Linked DNA regions of Homo sapiens. The protein of the gene in region 3 purifies or fractionates together with the protein of the main gene of each other region. This does not show direct contact. Each region holds a gene or a part of one and is shown on either strand. Other genes may lie near its edges.

Evidence for each region. Proteins that work in one complex are often made in the same cells at the same time.
Region 1: the proteins of AAMP (region 3) and WNK1 purify together in Homo sapiens (affinity purification with mass spectrometry; 3 studies listed by BioGRID and IntAct, with this or other methods). This does not show direct contact.
Region 2: the proteins of AAMP (region 3) and PTPRU purify together in Homo sapiens (affinity purification with mass spectrometry; 4 studies listed by BioGRID and IntAct, with this or other methods). This does not show direct contact.

Annotation. Positions count from the first base shown.
Region 1 is NC_000012.12:895,573-902,594, forward strand, and holds part of WNK1 (serine/threonine-protein kinase WNK1), read left to right. Parts: intron 1-498; coding exon 499-1,160; intron 1,161-1,906; coding exon 1,907-2,109; intron 2,110-4,903; coding exon 4,904-5,098; intron 5,099-7,022. UniProt on the Homo sapiens protein: Serine/threonine-protein kinase component of the WNK1-SPAK/OSR1 kinase cascade, which acts as a key regulator of blood pressure and regulatory volume increase by promoting ion influx.
Region 2 is NC_000001.11:29,232,441-29,239,537, forward strand, and holds the start of PTPRU (receptor-type tyrosine-protein phosphatase U isoform 1 precursor), read left to right. Parts: upstream 1-4,081; 5' UTR 4,082-4,204; coding exon 4,205-4,277; intron 4,278-7,097.
Region 3 is NC_000002.12:218,267,118-218,274,231, reverse strand, and holds the start of AAMP (angio-associated migratory cell protein), read left to right. Parts: upstream 1-4,094; 5' UTR 4,095-4,145; coding exon 4,146-4,266; intron 4,267-4,694; coding exon of another isoform or gene 4,695-4,697; coding exon 4,698-4,850; intron 4,851-6,618; coding exon 6,619-6,738; intron 6,739-7,114. Other genes in the region: probable thioesterase PNKD isoform 1 precursor, read right to left, coding at 2,683-2,851, 3,630-3,696. UniProt on the Homo sapiens protein: Plays a role in angiogenesis and cell migration. In smooth muscle cell migration, may act through the RhoA pathway.

The DNA of each region.
Region 1 (7,022 bases), on a different chromosome or scaffold from region 3:
CTCAGCCTCCCAAGTAGCTGGGATTACAGGCACACGCTACCATGCCTGGCTAATTTTTGTATTTTTAGTAGAGACAGGGTTTCACCACGTTGGCCAGGCTGATCTGAAACTCCTGACCTCAAGTGATCCACCTGCTTCAGCCTCCCAAAATGGTGGGCTTACAGGCATGAGCCACTATGCCTGGCCCTGACCTTTTGTTATGTATATGTTGACTAAGACATAAATCTGAATTCTGTGTATGACATCAAATACGAAAGTAAATTATTTACTTTATAAGCGTAGCCAGCCACACAGAATCTGCATCTCAGTACCCATGTGTTCTCTATGATGGTATTCAATTTTTCTTCCTAGTCAAAAGTGGAGGCGCTATGTAAAGAGACAATCAGCCTACTCTTTGACAGGGAAATAAAGTGATTCTTTTTTTCCTTTTTTAAATTGTCTGTGATAGAAATTGGATATTGAGAACTTAAGTTTTTAATCTTTGTCCTTTTTTATCAGGTTTCTGTTGCAGCAGACGGTGCCCAGAAAGAGGGTAAAAATAAGTCAGAAGATGCAAAGTCTGTTCATTTTGAATCCAGCACCTCAGAGTCCTCAGTGCTATCAAGTAGTAGTCCAGAGAGTACCTTGGTGAAACCAGAGCCGAATGGCATAACCATCCCTGGTATCTCTTCAGATGTGCCAGAGAGTGCCCACAAAACTACTGCCTCAGAGGCAAAGTCAGACACTGGGCAGCCTACCAAGGTTGGACGTTTTCAGGTGACAACTACAGCAAACAAAGTGGGTCGTTTCTCTGTATCAAAAACTGAGGACAAGATCACTGACACAAAGAAAGAAGGACCAGTGGCATCTCCTCCTTTTATGGATTTGGAACAAGCTGTTCTTCCTGCTGTGATACCAAAGAAAGAGAAGCCTGAACTGTCAGAGCCTTCACATCTAAATGGGCCGTCTTCTGACCCGGAGGCCGCTTTTTTAAGTAGGGATGTGGATGATGGTTCCGGTAGTCCACACTCGCCCCATCAGCTGAGCTCAAAGAGCCTTCCTAGCCAGAATCTAAGTCAAAGCCTTAGTAATTCATTTAACTCCTCTTACATGAGTAGCGACAATGAGTCAGATATCGAAGATGAAGACTTAAAGTTAGAGCTGCGACGACTACGAGATAAGTAAGTATATTTTCTCTTGTGAAAGAATGTCAGATAAGGTTTTCAGACCTAGATCCCAGGGCCAAGATTAATAATATTTTTCGCCACAATATGCTAATGTCTCATTTCTTTTAAAGAGACAGTGCCACAGAAGCCCCACCCCATACCTCCCCACCACACACACACACACACACACACACACACACACACACACACACACACACACACGATTCCCAACCACTGACTCACAGGCACAGGCAGCTTCTCTTGCACTCATACAGACCCATAGCATTTCTAGTTCTAGAACTTCTTCATTGTTACTATATTATTACTGTATTATTGTTACTGTATTGTATTATTATTTTTATTAATAGCATATTGTATCACTATTAACTGCTCTTTATTTATTAGTCCACTAAATGAATCTGGCACTGGGATGTATGATTATTTGGCACGTTTTGTTTGGCAGATTGGGTCAGAGTAGCAAATTCAGCTATTGTGTGCGTGGCCTCAAAAGTCAGGAAATGTTTTTCTCCTAAAACATTATCAACCATTTGTTGTTGGCTAGGAGCTTGTTGGAACATGGCTTGGGTAATGCAGGCCAGCAAGGTGAGTTGACAAACTAGAATCTCGTGGTAGTACATTTGGGGAAAAGGTTCATTAGTAACTACTACATACTTGAAAGCAGGTTTAGGAATATGCTGTTAATTCTTGTCTGAATGAAGAGGATTATGGTATTTTGAATTATGTTTGGTTATCTTTCACAGACATCTCAAAGAGATTCAGGACCTGCAGAGTCGCCAGAAGCATGAAATTGAATCTTTGTATACCAAACTGGGCAAGGTGCCCCCTGCTGTTATTATTCCCCCAGCTGCTCCCCTTTCAGGGAGAAGACGACGACCCACTAAAAGCAAAGGCAGCAAATCTAGTCGAAGCAGTTCCTTGGGGAATAAAAGCCCCCAGCTTTCAGGTAAAAAGCCCTGGACTAGGTCAGCCACAGCTGTCCTATCTTTTGTTTCTGTCTCCAGCTGTATGTGACCTGCTGAACATTTGTTGTTTTTGTTAAATTTCAAAGGAATTTGGCTCTCCTGATATTTTTGCTTCCTTGACTGCTGTACTTACATTTATTGTACCTCTTTTTGAGTCTATAGAAGTAGACTTAGTGAATACAATGGCTTATTCCATTGTAATCCATATTGCTATCTACTGGTAATCTTTATTTATAGTTATTCTTAAGGATAGACATTTAGCTTTGCCTGTTAACTCGTATAACTCACATTTAACCAAACTCTTGGGCAGTTGGAAGAAAATACATTATTCTCTGTTTAGTAAAACTTGGGTAGATTCTTTGTTTTAATGGATGACTTAGTCATAATTGCAACTTAGATGAATGTAATCGTCATATAGATATTTGTGTGTATGTCTAAGTGGTAACTTCTTGATTAAGGTTTTTATTTCATTTATATTGGGTTAAAGAACTTGCTAGTCATTGGTTAGGCACGGTGGCTCACGCCTGTAATCCCAGAACTTTGGGAGGCTGAGGCAGGCAGATCACGAGGTCAGGAGATCAAGACCATCCTGACTAACACGGTGAAACCCTGTCTCTACTAAAAATAAAAAAATTAGGTGGGCATGGTGGCAGGCGCCTATAGTCCCAGCTACTCAGGAGGCTGAGGCAGGAGAATGGCATGAGCCCGGGAGGCGGAGCTTGCAGTGAGCTGAGATTGCACCACTGCACTCCAGCCTCGGTGACAGAGCAAGACTCTGTCTCAAAAAAAAAAAAAAAAAGAAGAACTTGCTAGTCATTAAAATCAAAGAAATAGTTAAGTGATACTCTTTTGTAATGTAGTATATATATATATTTATTTATTTTAAGAGACAGGGCCTCACTCTGTTGCCCAGACTGGAGTGCAGTGGTGTGATCATAGCACACAACACAACAGCCTCAAACTCCTAGGCTCAGGTGGTCCTCCTACCTTAGCTTCCTGGGTAGCTGGGATTACAGGCACACACTACCATGCCCTGCTAACTTTGAATTTTTTTTTTGAGACAGAATCCCGCTCTGTTGCCCAGGCTGGAGTGCAGTGGCACGATCTCGGCTCACTGCATTCTCCGCCTCCCAGTTTCAAGTGATCCTCCTGCCTCAGCCCCGCATAGTAGCTGGGATTACAGGCACATGTCACCATGCCTGGCTAATTTTTGTATTTTTAGTAGAGATGGGGTTTCACTATGTTGGCCAGGCTGGTCTCAAACTCCTGGCTCAGGTGATCCACCCACCTTGGCCTCCCAAAGTGCTGGGATTACAGGCGTGAGCCACCGTGCCCGGCCCTGGACTATATTTTAATTGGGATAGATAGAGAGTTTCTAATCCTTTGGTGAAATTATGGTAGTGTTAACACAATTAGTTGAAAAGTAAAAGAAGGTTAAAATATGTTAAAAAGCAGTTGCAAACTTCTTAGCAGTTCCATTCTCTGGAAAGGTTCACAGATATCCAAATGTAGCACATTAGGGCCAGTTCATGCAGCCCATTAGTAGAGATGTGATTGTAAGAGAAATCAGCTAATTTCTGATCTGATCCCAATCAGATCTTTTTTGTTTTTGTTTTTGTTTTTTTGAGGCAGAGTCGGCAGTGGCTCAACCTCCAACTCCCAGGTTCAAGCAATTCTCATGCCCCAGCCTCCCAAGTAGCTGGGATTACAAGCATGTAATCCCAAACCAAATGTATAAGAACACCTGGCTAATTTTTGTATTTTTGTATTTTTAGTTGCACTATGTTGGCCAGACTGGTCTGAAACTTCTGGCCTCAGGTGATCCGCCCGCCTCAGCCTCCCAAAGTGCGGATTACAGGCATGAGCCACTATGCCCAGCTATGATCCTAATCAAATTCTAATCCTAATTTTGACATACTTTTTGAGTGGACTTGAATTCAACTGGGAACCGGGGAGCAGAGAGTCAATTTTAGGACAACCGACCTATTGAAAGCAACCTACCAAAAATAATTTTAAACACCCATTGCTCTGTAGTGACCTCCATCATTTTTGAACACCTCTTTTGTATTTGCTCTGATGCACGTTTATAGGAAAGTCTAAGCAGAGACTGCCTAGCAAACCTTTTTGTATAATGATTCAACACATTTTCTAATAGGGTAAAAAAAAAAGCAATCATGGAATTGCAGAATGGAATCTGGGTATCCACTAGGTACTCTGGTCTTCTTACGCTGCTCAGACATGTGGCCCATCTAGGTTTTCTAAAGCTAAAAAGCTCTGGAATAGTACATATGGCCCTATTACCTATGGATTCTTTTCTTTTTTTTTTTTTTTTTTTGAGTGCAGTGGCATGATGTCGGCTCACTGCAGCCTCTGCCTCTGGGTTCAAGCAATTCTCCTTCCTCAGCCTCCTGAGTAGCTGGGATTATAGGCACCCTCCACCACGCCTGGCTAATTTTTATATTTTTAGTAGAGACAGGGTTTCATCATGTTGGCCAGGCTGGTCTCGAACTCCTGACCTCAGGTGATCCGCCCACCTTGGCCTCCCAAAGTGCTGGGATATTATAGGCGTGAGCCACAACACCCAGCCTATCTATTGAGTCTTAGTGTCATTCCTCACTTCTCCCGTTAGTGAGGACTTTGTTCTTCTCATCAGTTTGTAGCTTTTGACCCATCATTCATCACTCAGTGGAACAAACCAAATGTATAAGAACAGTGCCTGATGAGTGCATGGGAAGAGCTGGACATGTTTCCTCATGCCACTTTATCTTTTGGCAGGTAACCTGTCTGGTCAGAGTGCAGCTTCAGTCTTGCACCCCCAGCAGACCCTCCACCCTCCTGGCAACATCCCAGAGTCCGGGCAGAATCAGCTGTTACAGCCCCTTAAGCCATCTCCCTCCAGTGACAACCTCTATTCAGCCTTCACCAGTGATGGTGCCATTTCAGTACCAAGCCTTTCTGCTCCAGGTCAAGGTAATAAAGCAACCATCATCGTCCAAAAACAATAAAATGGAGATGTTGCCATACCTGGGACAAAAGCCTGTTAAGGCGGGTTGGGAGACTAGCTGACCAGAACACAGCCTGTGTGTTGTACACTGAAGAATCTGGGTGAAAAGGGAAGTGGAGTGATAATGAGAATCGGTGGGCTCACTGCTCCCATTAGGTGAAATTACTTTTTTTCAAGGAATTACAGTGAAAAGTTACATCTGTGTGGCCTATATGACTTGCTCATTTGGGATTTGGAACTTAGGCTTTAATATTAGGCTGAGATTTCCTGGATGAAATTCTAAGGTGTTTTAGCAGTTTCTGAAGCTAATACATTTTCTTAGCCATTGTAGAATTTTGTTACTTTTAAGTATGGGAGTGGCATACTAAAATGAATAACCTTACAATTCAGTTTTTTATCCATAATCTACTTTCCAAATATAGCTCTGTTTATTAGTGATTGCTGAAAAAATTCCCACAGAGGAAAGAGCTTTTAGTCATATTAGAACAAGAATTGAAAAGACTTGGGCATCTGGGTGAGAAGAATGAAAAAAATATAGGTACTGGCTTATGTGCCTTTGCCACAGTTTCACAGAAATTAGAGATCAGTCTCTTCACAGGAAGAATGCACTTGATTGGTAAGGAGGGCAAACTAGCTAGCATTATTCGAACTAAGAAAAGCTTCCGCATTTTGCAGATGGGTAGAATTAAGACCTAATATTTCATCTCTTACATATCTGACCTTCCCCCCAGAAGCTTGTTCTTCTGTGTGCCATCTTAGTGCATTTCACCACTCCAGCCTCAAGTTTCTAACATCTTGTAGTTGTGTTCTGTCTCTTCTCCTCTCTCTGTTCTACCCTGTTTTTCCCCTCTCACAGGCTGTGCGAAGTTTAACTGTGCATCTGAACAGGTGACATTCAAACCTGGTGGCAGGAGGACCCGATTTCTGAGTACGCCCTGCTTGGCTCTTTGTGTGTAACACCTTTACTCCTTCCTTGTCCTTGTGTTTCTGCTGCTTGGATCTGATGTTTCACGCAGTCCATTTTCATTTGTCTCTTTTTGTATATCATCTACTCAGTGGCTTGGCTGAATTACTGTTACCCTCAGAAGTTTGGGCCCCCACATTAATTATGATAAAAAATGTCAAAATAACAAGTTATCTACAAATTTCAATGTAACTTTCTGGTAGAAGTGCTTCTTCATGGATCTGTGACAGAGAGTGGATATGGTATCTAGGCAATAGATTGCTGGGTCATTTAGAATAATGAAGACTGAACTCCACAGTCGTAGTCAGTGCTGTCTGTCTGCCCTAGCATTAGAAATGAGAGAAATCAGCCAGACACGGTGGCGTACACCTGTAATCCCAGCACTTTGGGAGGCCGAGGCGGGAAGATTGCTTGAGGCCAGGAGCTCGAGACCAACCCTGGGCAACATGGTGATACCCCATCTCTAAAAAAAAAAAAAAAGTTAGCCTGGCATGGTGGTGTGCACCTATAGTCCCAGCTGCCCAGGAGGCTGAGGCGGGAGGATTACCACCTTAAGACCAGGAGGTTGAGACTGCAGTGAGCCATGATTGCACCACTGCACCCCAGCCTGAGCGACAGAGTGAGACTCTATCTCAAAAAAAAGAAACGAAATGAAGAAAGCATTTTGACCAATGATGCTCTTAGATCCTGGCAGCAGGTAAAAATTATGTACCATTTTTTTCCATTCTTTGTCAGAGTAGATTGAAATCTTATTTTTCTTCTCTATTAAGCCTAAGCAGCTACCAGTTGAAAAGATGCTAGGATCTCTTCATTGGATCATTCCACCACTACTGTCCTCTAACCCCATAAAATCAAAAGCGGTTTTTAGTTTGGTTATTCTGATAAAGCACTTAGTCTAATAAAGATCAAAGCCCAGCATCTGCAAG
Region 2 (7,097 bases), on a different chromosome or scaffold from region 3:
CTGTACTTGTTTTTATTATTAGAGAAAGTTGGTGTCCCATGGTGGGGGAAAGGCTTGGCCCCACATTTATGTGCCAGCACACACACGATGACCAGTCCTGCTTACCCTTTTCCCCAGTGACACATAGGCTTACTTGAACTGGGAAGTACAACGTAACCTTCTGTTGTAAGACTCCCTAGGTGACATTGAGATGTCGACATTCTCTTCTTCACCAAATTGGCTCCTCTGAATTTCTGGGGAGCCCAGTCAGGAAGCCTGAAGAATCATCCAGCAAGTCCTCCTCCTTGGGGCTGGACTTTAGCCTCCTGTGCATCCCAATAGCCCTCACTTTTAGTCTAGGCCATCTGGGTTCTTGCAGGGGCATAGTTTGAGAACTACTGACTGAGGGGTTCAAGTCCAATTTCCTGGACTTGCATTCAAGATTCTTTGCACTCTGACTCCCACACTGCATTTCCAGCTTCATCTTCTCCTGTTGGACCGTGCATAGCCTGTGATCCAGCTGCATCTGATACCCGTCTTCCCCAGTGTGTCTTGTGCCTTTATTCAGGCCACTCCTTCTGCCTGAAATGCTGTTCCCTGCCTCGGAAACTCCAGGTTCAGATGTCATTTCTTTGATGTTTCAAAACTCCCTAGGTCATCTGCTGCTGCCTTTGTGTTTTCCCTGGAGCTGTGTTATGGCCTTTAGTACATCGTCTCTTATTTATTCCCCTCCAGGCAAGACTGGAGCCATGTTTGGTTTATCTCCATAACACCAGCACCCGATATGAGCCTGGCACAGGGTAGGTGTCATAAATATTCCATGAGTTGCAGGTAATTGAATTTCCTCATGGCCTAGAACGGTCTGTGGTGCCATCTCCTTTTCCCTAGATTTGGGCTGGTCACTCCAGGCCAGGAATTTCCTTCTTCCTTCTTCTCTCAAGGATTATAGAAGTCTGTGGTCTTTTTTTTTTTTTTTTTTTTTTTTTGAGACAGAGTTTTGCTCGTTGCCCAGGCTGGAGTGCAATGGCGCGATCTTGGCTCACTGCAACCTCCGCCTCCCAGGTTCAAGCAATTCTCCTGCCTCAGCCTCCTGAGTAGCTGGGATTACAGGTGCCCGCAACTACGTCTGGCTAATTTTTGTATTTTTTTTTTTTTTAGTAGAGACAGGGTTTCACCATGTTAGTCAGGCTGGTCTCAAACTCCTGACCTCGCCTCTGCCTCCCAAAATGCTGGGATTACAGGTGTGAACCACTGTGCCCGGCTGAAGTTTGTGGTCTTTTAAAAGTAAAGCAGAAAGTCCTCTTCTCATCTGTCTACCTGTTGCTTGTGTTCTCTTTCTCCCTCCATTATAGTCTCTGCCATCTTCCCCTGCACAAAGGGCAAAGGGATGTGGAATCAGTCAGATCTGGGTTCAAATCTAGGGCCCGCCGTCTATTTACTAGCTGTGTCACCTTAGGCAAGTGTCATATGCTCTCTGAACCTCAGTTTCCACACCCGTAAAATGGGATCACTGGTAAAACTCCTATTTTGAGGCTCTCTCAAGAGCCCTCTGCAAACAGCACCCTTGGTTGTTTCTTCTGTTCACTGGTTTTCTCTCCTTGAGTTTCCTTTTCTGGGTGGGCCTCTCTGGCTCCTCTCTGCTCCAGCGTCTCTGTATCTTAGTTTCTTCCCTAAGGTTTCCCCTTGGTTTCTTCTTGCTTCTGCCTCCCTCTCCCTATTTAATTATCTGTGTCTAATTCTTGCCTGCTGTGTCTTTTGGTCCCTTTCCTAACTCAGTGTGGAGCTCATCAGCTCTCACAAGAGAGGAGACCAAGAGCCCAGGAACTCTCAACCCAGCGATACCTCCTCCAGCCCCAGGGCAGCTTCAAGGTGTGTCCATCTCAGCATGAAGCCAGCTAGGAGGGGCAGGGCACAGGGAGGGCCTACATATACCTTGAACTCCTACGCTTTGTTCAGTGTCACTGCCCAGTGGTCAGACCCATCTGCCCATGGCTTTCCCTACTTCAGCAGTCTTTATAGCTGGAGCTGTAAAAAAAAAAAAACAAAAAAAAAAAAACCCAGAGATCAGAACTTATTACTCCTTATTACTCCTCTGCTTAATTACTCCACTTCAGTGGCCTCCCATTAATTACTCTTAGGGTTGAACCTCAAGCCCCTTCCTTGCTCATAGTTTCTTGCCTGACCTACAGACCCTGCTGACTTGTCTAGCTGCACCTGGCTCCCTTCTGCCCCTGACTCACTCCATGCCAGCTGCCCGGCTTCCTTGCAGCTGCTTGTACCCACCAGCTCCTGCCTTTGCACAGGCTGTCCCCTCTGACTGCAATGTTCCTCTCCACTGATTTGCATGAGGTTGGCTCCTTCTCATACTTCAGGTCTCAGTTCAAATGTCACCATGTCACTTCTATAGCAAAGCCCTCTTGGACCACTTATCTAAAGGAGATGCCCCTTCCCTATGTTCTTTATCATTATACTCCCTCGTTTCCTTTAGCTTGCATATCTTAGATGGTAATGATATATTTATGTACATGTTTGCTGTTGGGCTCTCCTAATAGAATGTAAGATTCATGAAGGCTAGGACCATTTCCCTTTCATTCATTCCATCCAGTCAGTATTTATTGAGCATCAATTACGTGCCAGAGGCCGGGCGCGGTGGCTCACGCCTGTAATCCCTGCACATTGGGAGACTGAGGCAGGTGGATCACCTGAGGTCAGGAGTTCCAGACCAGCCTGGCCAACATGGTGAAACCCTGTCTCTACTAAAAATACGAAAATTAGCCGGGCGTGGTGGTGGGCACCTGTAATCCCAGTTACTTGGGAGGCTGAGCCAGGAGAATTGTTGGAGCCTGGGAGGCAGAGGTTGCAATGAGCCAAGACTGCGCCATTGCACTCCAGCCTGGGCAACAAGAGTGAAACTCCATCTTGAAATAAAATAAAATAAAATAAAATAATAAAAACATGCCATATACTGGGCACGGAAATACAAGATGAGTCTTTTCCCAAGGGAGCTCATTTCTAGAGGTGGAGACAGATAATGAACTCATCATATAGCCCGCACTCTATTTGAAATTGCAACAATTCCCCTTCCCTTCCCTGTCCCCCCACCACCCCCAAATTTCCTGGTGTATGAGACAGTGATAAAGGACGTACACCAGAGGGTTTGCTTTTTTGTTTTTGTTTTTTTGGTTGTTTACTGTTCTTGTCTTCCCACTGGAATGTAAGGTCCATGAGAGTAGGGAATTTTTGTCTGTTTTATATCTCTACCCTGGCCTATAGTAATTGTTGAATAAATGAATAGACCCCAATAAATATTTGTTGAATGAATAGGTGTCCAGATGGGAGGAAGGTCTCAGCCCCTATTCAATTCAAACCAAACAACTTTGATTCAAATCTCGGTGCTGTCAAATACTGTTGCATAACAGTATTTATGCAGTATAATTATTGCATACCTAATATATGATGATTAAATGAGTCCATGTGGGTTAAACACATAGAAGGTACCTGGTCTTACATAGTAATGAGCAACGAGTTTGCAGATCATAGTGCGAGGGCTCGTTCTGGGTAGAGGCCCAAATACATTTAACCTGTGTAGCCAGAAGGTAGAGTAGGACCAGTGAGGGCTAGTGAGGGAGGTAGACTTGCACGTCATGAAATGAAAAACTTTCTAAAAGCCGGCGTTTCCAAAGCCCCAACAACCGCTCTTGGCCAGGTGATGAGCGCCCTGTTCCTGGAGGTATGTAGAACACGCATTTGAAGGCGCCAAGGTACAAGGGATTCAGGCATCGGATGGGACAGAGGCCGGGTGTCCCTGGGTCACCGTCCCTGAGAGCGCTGTACGGGAGCTAGGCGTGGGCCATGAGCGTGCTCGCCTGGCAGTGTTGGTGCCCGGTCCGTGGAGACGTCCGTGGGCGTCCAGACCCAGCCGCGGGGCCTCATGGCGGGGAGGATGCGGGAGCGGGGGAGGGGCGCGCCAGGGCTAGCGGGCGGCCGGACCCGCTGCAGCACCCGCCGTGGCCAGCAGGGAGCGCCGCGAGACCGCCGAACCCGCGGCCGGGCCTGACGTCAGCGCCCCGCTTGCTCCGGCTCGCGCTCTGGACTCGGCGCCAGTCCCGCTCCGCGCCGCGCCGCTCCGCTCCGGCTCGGGCTCCGGCTCGCCTCGGGCTGGGCTCGGGCTCCGGGGGCGGCGTCCCCCGCGCCGGGCCCCGGGACGGGCGGCGACGCTCCAACCATGGCCCGTGCCCAGGCGCTCGTGCTGGCACTCACCTTCCAGCTCTGCGCGCCGGAGACCGAGACTCCGGCAGGTAAGCGCGCGGCGGCCGGACCGAGCCTGCCCCGCCGAGCCTCGGGGCCCGTGGCGTAGCTCGGAAGAAAGTGTGAGTGTTGAGTGACCGGGCGTTACGAGCGTGCTCCCTGTGTGTGTCTGAGCGTAGGATGGGCGATTGTGTGCCCGGGGTGTTGCGTGACTGCGAATGTTGTGTGTCCGTGAGTTCTGTGCGCAAGAAAAGGTGATGTGTGTCGGCGAGTATGTTGGGGGTGAATGTTGTGTGCATCGAGGCATTGGGTGTGCGCTGAGTGTCTTGTGGGTCTGCCAGTGTGTAGTGTTTGTGTGGCCAAGTGGGTTGTGTGTGCATCTGAGTTTGGTTGTGTTGCGGGAGTTGTATCTGCTAATGTGTTGCATTTGTTTGCATTTTGTATGCCTGGCCGGGAGTGCTGTTTGTTTTGTGTCTGCGAGTGGGTTGTGTGTTTGTGTTATGCCTGTGGCCAAGGGTGCTCTCTGGATCCCGCCTGAGTGTGGATCCGGGAACGCGTGTGTGGCGTGTGTGCTTTTGAGATCCGTGTACATGTGTGAAGGCGTGGGAACGGGTCCGGAACGTGTGTGTCCGTGCGCTGTGTACGTGTGGGGAGTGTCTAGGGTATGTGGTGTGTGCTGCCGGGGGCCGCGTGGGTCCGAGTGAATGCCAAGTGTGCCGGGAATGCGTGTGTGGGAGCGAGTCTGGAACGGATGTGAGTGTGTGCGAATGTGTCCGTGTGTGCTGGCTGCGCGTCCAGGAATGTTGCGAGTGTGGAGCGCGCCTGGGCCGCGGCTGCGAGTGTGCCCTGGTCCCGGGGCCGCCCGAGGGGGCGGTGGCAGGACGTGTGTGCGCGCGTGTGCGTGTGCGCGTGTGTGGCGCGCTGGGCCGGAACAAGTTGTCGCGGCGGCGCCCCCTGGGCTGCCCGGGTCGGGCAGGGCCCGAGGCTCAGGGGAGGACCGGGCCCCGCGGCCGCCGCCTCGGGCATGTCGGACTGTTTGTTGTTTCGCAAGTTCCGCGCGGCGCTGGCGGGCGGCTGATCCGAGGCGGCGCCGGGGCTGCGGGGCGCCCGGGCCAGCGGGCCCCAGCGAGGGGCCGGCGGGCGGGCAGGGGAGGGCCGGACCGGCGGGCGCTCCTGCGGTGGCCGGGCCGCGGCTGCGCCCCGGGCGGCCGGGCGGGGGCTGTCCCCGGGCTGGGCTGCGACGTCCGGGCGCGGGCAGGGCCTGGCTCGCCGCCGGGGGACGGCGCCCCCTCCCTTGGCGCGCAGGACGCGCGGGGGACGCCCGGGCCTCCCGGGACACTCCCTTGGTGGAGCCTGCAACTTTGTGCGGCCTCCCGGCCGGCCGGGACCGCCAGGTGTGTGCTTGAGTGTGAGCGTGAGTGTGAGCGTGTGGCTCCGCGCTTGTCTGCTGTGTGGTCGCGTTCTCCGGGTGTGTTTCGGAGTCTGGTGTCTTTGGTGTGCGTGCGCGTGTGTGTGTGCGCGCAGCTGAATGTATGTATACGGAGCCTGTGTTTGTGTGTCCGTGTGCTCGTCGGAGTGTGGACGGTGTGTCGGATGTGTGTGCGTGCGCGTGTTCCACATCCCACCCTGAGGCCTGGGATCCTAGACCGCGGCCCCTTCCCGCGGAGTTTCGGGGCCCTGCTCCGGGTGACCTCCCCCGCCCTCGCCACCGGCGGGGCTGCTCCGCGGGCTCCGGGTAGCCGGGAGACGCCCGGGGCGGGATCCGAGCCGAGACACGTGCTGGAGCGGAGCCGCTTCCTCACGGTCGCCAGCCGCAGACAACTGACCTCCCCGGCATCGCGTTCGCGGCCCTGCTGCTGGCTCCGGTGTCTCGGGCCGGAACTCCTGTGGCTCCAGCGTTCGCGCCGGCCACTGGCCAGCGCTTGGGCCTCGCCCTGCAGCTCCGGGGCCATAGGGCACAGCTTTAGCTTTGACCTCCCCGTTCCCGAAAGGACGCCCAAGGCGACCTCCCACCCCATCCTCCCCAACTTCTCCCCCATGTCCTGCGGCAACTTTGCCTCCCTCTCCCACCGTGAAATCAAACCCGCGGGGTTCTGTATGCGCCCCATCCCCGCTCCTACCACCATCGCTTTGATTTCAAGAACACTCACAAGCCCCAAGCCCTGCCAGCAGGAGGACTGTCAGGAACTGAAGTTTGGGAGTGAGGCCTAGAGCAGGTTACTCCCATTCTTGATGCCTCAGTTTCCTCTTCTGCCTCATAGCCATCATGATAATGGTGTATGGCACTTTTGGTAGATACCAAGTACCTTGTAAAGTAAGGCTCTGTCTGTGAGTGCCAGGGAACAAAAAATGGATTTGAGAGTTGTTGCAAAGCCCCAGACAGAGGCTGTGATTTAAAGCTGGGGTATTAGGTGTCAAATTCTGCCTCTGCTACTTGCTATTCATGTGATGTCTGGCAAATCACCTCACTTGTAAAGTTCCTGGCCCCCTTTGTTATTCTTAGAGATGAACTCAGAAGCCCAAGTAGAATAGATGTGATACCCCTTGTCCCCAGTCTGGACAGAGTCAGCCCAGCTCCCTGAATGGCTCCGGAGCTTCCGGGTAGGGGCGGTGTGTGATGCCTTCTCAGCCTTGCAAACCTGGTAGTTATTTATTCTGCTGTGTTCTTGCTATTTTGTCCTTTTGGTCGCAGGAGTTGTGGACGGCAGGAATGAGGGAGTGGCTGCCCAGTGGTTTCAGGTTGGGCAATAAAGGCTTGTCTGGGCATCCCTCCCTTTTCCCTGGGGCTAGGGGAGGGGACTTAGCAGGAAGCAGTGACAGTGGCCGAGGTGGGGACGCTGAGCTCCTGGACAGCCTGCTGCCCAGCTCTG
Region 3 (7,114 bases):
ATAAATGTAATAAAGTTTATGTCTAGAAGTTAAAACCCTGTATGGCTCCAGGAGTATGTGTGGCTCTGCCCAAAGTATCCACTTCTTCCTTCTGCATTCTGGCTTGGGCTGTCCCACCTTTTCCAAGGTAATCAAATACACTTTACTGCAGCAGTTTCCGGGGACGGATGCAATAGACTAGTGAAGGCTCAGGAGTTGGGTGGGGAAAGGGAGAGCTCAACCCTATCACACTGGATCACTGGATATGGAAGAGACCTCTTGGCTGTAGTGCTTGACCTTTTCTGCACCATGGACCCTTTCCAAAAGCTCATGAGAGCTAACTCTCTTCCTCAAAGAGCTGTATGTATACCTACAGTTTTGCAGATGGAGGAGGGGATGGACTGCAGGTTCAGTCCATGTCAACTCCAGTCCCATCTTACAAAATGAGGAAACTGGGCCTGGTGCGGTGGCTCACACCTGTAACTCCAGCACTTTGGGAGGCCGAGGGCGGTGGGGGGGAATCACCTGAGGTCAGGAGTTTGAGACCAGCCAGACCAAACATGGTGAAACCCCATCTCTACTAAAAGTACAAAAAAAAAAAAAAATTAACTGGGAGTGGCGGTGAGTGCCTGTAATCCCAGCTACTCTGGAGGCTGAAGCAGGAGAATCACTTGAACCCAGAAGGTGGAGGTTGCAGTGAGCTGAGATCATGCCATTGTACTCCAGCCTGGGCAACAAGAGTGAAACTCTGTCTCAAAAAAAAAAAAAAAAAATAAGTAAAAAAAAATCCAAAAAAAAAAAAAAAACACAAAAAGTAACTGGGCATGGTGGCACTCACCTGGGGTCCCAGCTACTCAGGAGGCTGAGGTAGGAGGATCACTTGAGCCCAGGAGGTGGAGGTTGCAGTGAGCTGACGATCACAACACTGCACTCCAGCCTGGGTAACAGAGCGAGACTCCGTCTCAAAAAACAAAAAACAAAAAACAAAACAAATGAGGAAACTGAGGCCCAGAGTCGAGTCATTTGGACTCAGTAAAGAGCAGTGCTTTTTTTTGCCTCCACACCCTGAATACCTTCTTTGATTCTCTTTATTGTTTCAAGGCTGAGCGGGACCCCACCCTCCTGGCCGGCAGCTCTGAGGGCTTGGTCCCGAGGGCCCGGGGCCTAGGCTGGTTGCACTTAAGTCTCTGGGTTTGCCCCACCATCCAGCTGGGAACACTGAGCTCTGTGAGAGGGAGCACACATGAGTAACCAGCCCCACCCTCTGCCCCTCCCATCCCAAGGGACTCACAAACCCAGACCTGGTTCCTTTCTACTAAACACTCAATAACTTTATTTGCCTTTGGCTGGCTCCTTGGTGTGGGGCAGGGTAGGGTTTGGCAACAGCCTGGGCTTCATGCGCCCTCTGGTGGACCTCAGAGGCACGAACTGGAATCTGGGCCAAACCTGAGGACTTAACAGTCAATAGCCTAGGAGGGTCGCAGCGCTCCTCAGGTCTGCACCCCAGACCCAACATCAGGGGACGGGGCACTCTGGGAGGAAGCCCTGAACCTCTGGCTCTCATACTCGCCCGTGTTGGACAACCGCATGTTCTGCCGAGCCTTCATCTGCTTCACACGGTCCTTGTCCACTTCCCGCTTGGTGAGGATGAAGAGGAGGATACCACAAGGGAAGCCGATGGCCCTACGGGTGGGGAGATGTGCACGGGGTTTGGGGAGGGGCCAAGCCTGAGCCAGAGGAGCTGGGGGGAGTCATTCTAGCTTCATCAGTTGCATGAATGCTGCAATACCTCTTATAGTCTATTCATCCTCTGTGCTGGCTGCTGGAGGGACCCACACAAATCAGATCCTGTCACTTCCCTGCTTAAAACCCCGTAACTCCATCACTTCCTGGCCAAGTCCAAACATGGCACAAAAGGCCCAGTGTGGCTGGGTCTCTGCCTGCCTCTTTCCTCCTCCCGCCTAGAGCCTGATCCTCAGCACGAGCCCTGCATTCCTGCAACAGCACCTGTGCAGGATTTTCCAGGCAGCCCTGACGCTTTCCCTCTCTGAGACTTGGCCAAGGTACCCTCCCAGTTTTCCCCTCTTAAGCTAAGTAACCACTGCTTGGGAGGCACTTTGGTATGGGGGAAAGAGCATGGAGTCACAGACTAGGTGAGAATCCTAGCTCAGTCTCAGTTCCTTCCTCTGTGAAATGGGGATGTAATACTTATCTCAAACACTAAAACATTACATGGCAAAGTACTGGCACACCTCACATGCAGAAAAAAATGTTGATTTCTTCCTCCTTTCTCTTTAATATTGGTCAATAATATGTATTAAGGTCAGAGTCAGAGCCCAATCACAATGTTCATAACGCCTTCTGAGTACTACTATACAACTAGTACAAGCTCACATGATCTCAACGAACTACTTACTTAAACTTGGGTCTCACTCCAAGCTCCCAAAAGGGAGGATGAGGCCAGGGACCCAAGTCTGAATCAGATCAACTCAGCTTACTCCACAGTAAACCCACTGTCTTCTCAATTCCACATACTTTCCCACCTCCACTGCCCCACCCCTCTGAGATTCCAATCGAACCCAACAATTCTGTTCCCACAACTTTGGATTCAGCTCGCCACCTGAAACTTGGAGAAGTTTCTAAGTCCTGCCCTCCCCTACAAGCCACGCCCCGTTGGTGGGCAAAGGGGTGGTTAAAACTCACCAGGCCAGTCCCACAGCTTTCATGGGGTTCTTGCCCCTCTTTCTGGGAATGTATTCCAGCTCCGGGGATAGGGGTTCAGGTTCCTCCTTGCCCTCTGGGGAGCTGTGGCTTTGCAGGGCCCGGGTCCTGTTATGAGAAGCCTTGTTAGCTGTGGCTCCTGCGAGAATCCCTGTGGATGGAGGTAAGGAAGGTCAGTAAGAAGAGATGAGAAGAAAGCAAGCGGGGAGGTGGGGGGCAGTAAGGGCTTGGGAGGAGCGGCTGAGATCTGGGGAAGGGGAGTGACTGCAGTCTGAAGTAAGAAGTGCCAAGGAGAATCCAAAGGGAAATGGGAAAATCGCCACCGAGGTGGCACCTTTGGAAGCCACTTCCACGTCACTGCGGGCTCATCACCCTGGTGCCAGGACGAAAAGCTTCGCTGTTCTTCCTCAGACGACAGCATGGGAAGGACTGCAGTGGGACTCACATAAGACGTATGAAGGAAATCCGGGAAAAGGTTTTGAAACTGCAAATGTTAGCACTGGAAGGGACCTTAAAGATAGTCTACTCCATCCCTTGCACTGTACGGAAGAGGAAACTGAAGCCCTGAGAGAAAAACTGCTTTGCCCAAGGTCAAACTGCTAATTATCCGGGGCTGGAACTCAAACCTCCAGAAGCCCGGGGCTCTTTCCTCTGCACTGCGGTGAGTGTGAAACACCTGGAGCGCGGGAGTCCAACAGGCTTCCTAGGAGCTCCCTCTTGCAGCAAGACCCCGGAGGTGTCGAGCAACCCGAAGGCGGGGGGATGCACTGGGTGACCTCTAAAGAGCATCTCTGCACCCCCAGACTCTAAGATCTTGCAGAAAAGTGTGGGGAGGAACCAAGAGCCCTGACCTCCTGCTATCGTCGGGCTGGACGTGAAAGAAAAGGGATCTTCTGCAGTCCTGCCCTCCCCGGGGTCCCTCTCCTTACCCCGGAGGACGCGGGCATTTCTCGCCCCCCGGCCCTTCAGCGCCGTAGCAGCTACCACCGCCGCCATGTTCAGATCCCACCCCCGCTTCACCGCGCTCCCCGCCGGGAATTGTAGTTTGCGTAAGGGGCCTCCCCCGCTCCTTCCGTCCTGCCTACAGACCAGAAACTACATCTCCCAGAAGCCCGCAGAGCGGACCCAGGAGAACTACTCTTCCCAGGAGACCCCGGAGGCGCGCGCGCTCGCTTGTTTCCCTCCAGTTGGGGGCGGAGTCAGGTGGGGCGGAGTTTGGGTTCTCTCCGCCACGCCCCGGCCCCATCTTCCAATGCCGCTCTGTGATTGGTGAGGCGGCCAGCCAACCTTCGTAGCTATTGGCCGAACGGCCGTCGCTCTTCCTGCTGGGGAGTCGCCTACGCCTACTTCCTGCCGGGAGGAGGGGCTCGAGTTCCGCGTCGTCGCGCAGAGCTGACTCTGGGAGGCGTTTGGGCCCAGAGAAGTGGATCCGCCGCTTGCGCCGCATGGAGTCCGAATCGGAAAGCGGGGCTGCTGCTGACACCCCCCCACTGGAGACCCTAAGCTTCCATGGTGATGAAGAGATTATCGAGGTGGTAGAACTTGATCCCGGTCCGCCGGACCCAGGTGAGAACTGCCGCTCCTCAGGCCATGGGACAGGAGACGCTCACCCCTGGCCTCTGACTCCTGCTTTTCCCCGCTCCCCTCCACACCCGACTGGTCATTCCTACCGATATCCCTCTTCCCCTCCTCCCCCACTCCCACCCTCACACTTAGTTCTCAGGCCTGGCTGGGGTGGGGGTTCCCTGACGCCTCCTCTGGCCCTTCCCCTCACACACCCCCTTCCCATCATCCCCTTGGCCCTCCCTTACCGCACGGTCTCTGGCCAGCCGTGGCCTCCCGTCCTGTGTCCCGCGCGCCCCCGCGGACCCCGGTGTGTCTGACTCCACCTTCCCTTCTCGCCACATGACCCGCCCCAGCCTCAGGCCTCCTCATGCTTCTCTCCGTACCTCTTACCGCCTCCCGAGCCCCATCTTCTAACCCTCTCCCCAAAGCAGATGACCTGGCCCAGGAGATGGAAGATGTGGACTTTGAGGAAGAAGAGGAGGAAGAGGGCAACGAAGAGGGCTGGGTTCTAGAACCCCAGGAAGGGGTGGTCGGCAGCATGGAGGGCCCCGACGATAGCGAGGTCACCTTTGCATTGCACTCAGGTAGGTCTTTGAGGCGATCCACCTCAAATCAGTTTAGGTGGGCGTGTAAGCATTAAACATCAGCCATGGACAGAACGTTATGGGGGACACAGAGATGGGCAAGATGCTGGCCTTGCGCTGGAGGAGCCCACAGGTGGGAAAGTGTGGCAGAATGGATGATTGCTTGGCTTCTGGCATCAGTCGAGACACCCTCTACTTTGCCAGTTAACCTTGATTAACCTCTTAGTTTTCTTTTAAAAAGTTATCTTTGGCCGGGCGTGGTGGCTCACTCCTGAAATCCCAGCACTTTAGGAGGCTGAGGCAGGTGGATCACTTGAGGTCAGGAGTTCGAGACCAGCCTGGCCAACATGGCAAAACCCAGTCTCTACTAAAAATACAAAAATTTGGCTGGGCATGGTGGCTCACGCCTGTAATCCCAGCACTTTAGGAGGCCCAGGCAGGCGGATCACAAGGTCGGGAGTTCCAGACCAGCCTGGCCAATATGGTGAAACCCCGTCTCTACTAAAAATACAAAAATTAGCTGGGCGTGGTAGCGGGCGCCTGTAGTCCCAGCTCCTCGGGAGGTTGAGGCAGGAGAATTGCTTGAACCCGGGAGGCGGAGGTTGCAGTGGACCAAGACTGCGCCATTGCACTCCAGCCTGGGCAACAGAATGAGAGTCTGTCTCCAAAAAAAAAAAAAAAAAAAAAGTTATCTTTGATAAAAGTTAATAAAAGTAGTGAGTATAAAATTAGAGATAATTGGCCAGGTGCGGTGGCTCATGCCTGTAATCACAGCACTTTGGAAGGCCAAGGCGGGTGGATCACCTGAGGTCGGGAGTTCAAGACCAGCCTGGCCGACATGGTGAAACCTCATCTCTACTAAAAATAAAAAAAAAATTAGCTGGGTGTGGTGGCATGTGCCTGTAATCCCAGCTACTCCGGAGGCTGAGGAAGGAGAATCACTTGAACCTGGGAGGCAGAGGTTGCATTGAGCTGAGATTGTGCCACTGCGCTTCGGCCTGGGCGACAGAGCAAGATTCCATCTCAAAAAAATAAAATAAAATGAGAGATAATTATATCTTTTTGAGCATATTTTATATAACTTTCTCAAGTGCTAGTTCTTAGTAAGAAACTGTTGCCAGGCACGGTGGCTCATGCCTGTAATCCCAGCACTTTGGGAGGCCGAGGCGGGTGGATCAGAAGGTTAGGAGTTCGAGACCAGCCTGACCAACATGATGAAACCCCATCTCTACTAAAAATACAAAAATTAGCTGGTTGTGGTGGCGGGCGCCTGTAATCCCAGCTACTCAGGGGGCTGAGGCAGGAGAATTGCTTGAACCTGGGAGGTGGAGGTTGCAGTGAGCTGAGATTGTGCCACTGCACTCCAGCCTGGGCGACAGAGCAAGACTCTGTCTCAAAAAACAAAAAACAAAAAACAAAAAACCCTTAACGTGATGCTCTCCTCGCTCTGTACCCAACCCCGGTGGCATCCCATGCTGACAACTGTAAGCCCTGCACCTGTCCCCACCTCTTGTCCATGGCATTGGTGTTGGGTGGTGACGGGAGTCACACAGTGAGGGGATCTACTCTGGCAAATAGGGAGCTTGGCAAATATGGGAAGGATCTAACAACCCAATTCTTGAAACTTAGAAGAACTTGGATGTACCTGTGTTTTCCAGGAGGAAAGACACGCTTTGGGTGAAAGGGGGTGGGTTTCCTGAAGATTGTGAAGGACAGAGCCCTAGGTGGGAGCTCTGTCCCCTTACCCATGGAATATCTCTTGGGACAGCATCTGTGTTTTGTGTGAGCCTGGACCCCAAGACCAATACCTTGGCAGTGACCGGGGGTGAAGATGACAAAGCCTTCGTATGGCGGCTCAGCGATGGGGAGCTGCTCTTTGAGTGTGCAGGTGAGGGGGCTGGGGTAGAGGCCTGGGAGAGGTCATATTCTTTTGGGAGATCTTAGGAGGCTGACCTGCAGAGGTTGTGCATCCAACAGCCACTTAGTGACATCTCTTTTGTGCCAGCTCTGTGCTGGGCCCCAGGGACACGGGGCGAATACTAGTGTGTTTTGGGCACAGAGGCAGGAGGCACTAATTGGCCAAGGGAATCCAGGAAAGGCCAGAGAAGGCCACATTGGTATAGGAGCAGGCGGGCAGAGGTGTAGAGTGGACAGAAGGGGGAAGGCATAGGAGGCTGGGACTTGGTCTGGTTGAGTGAGGGCCAGCAGTGTCTCCCAGCAGACATGGGAGTATTGGTTCCTAGAGTGGTGGTGAGTTCCAGCAC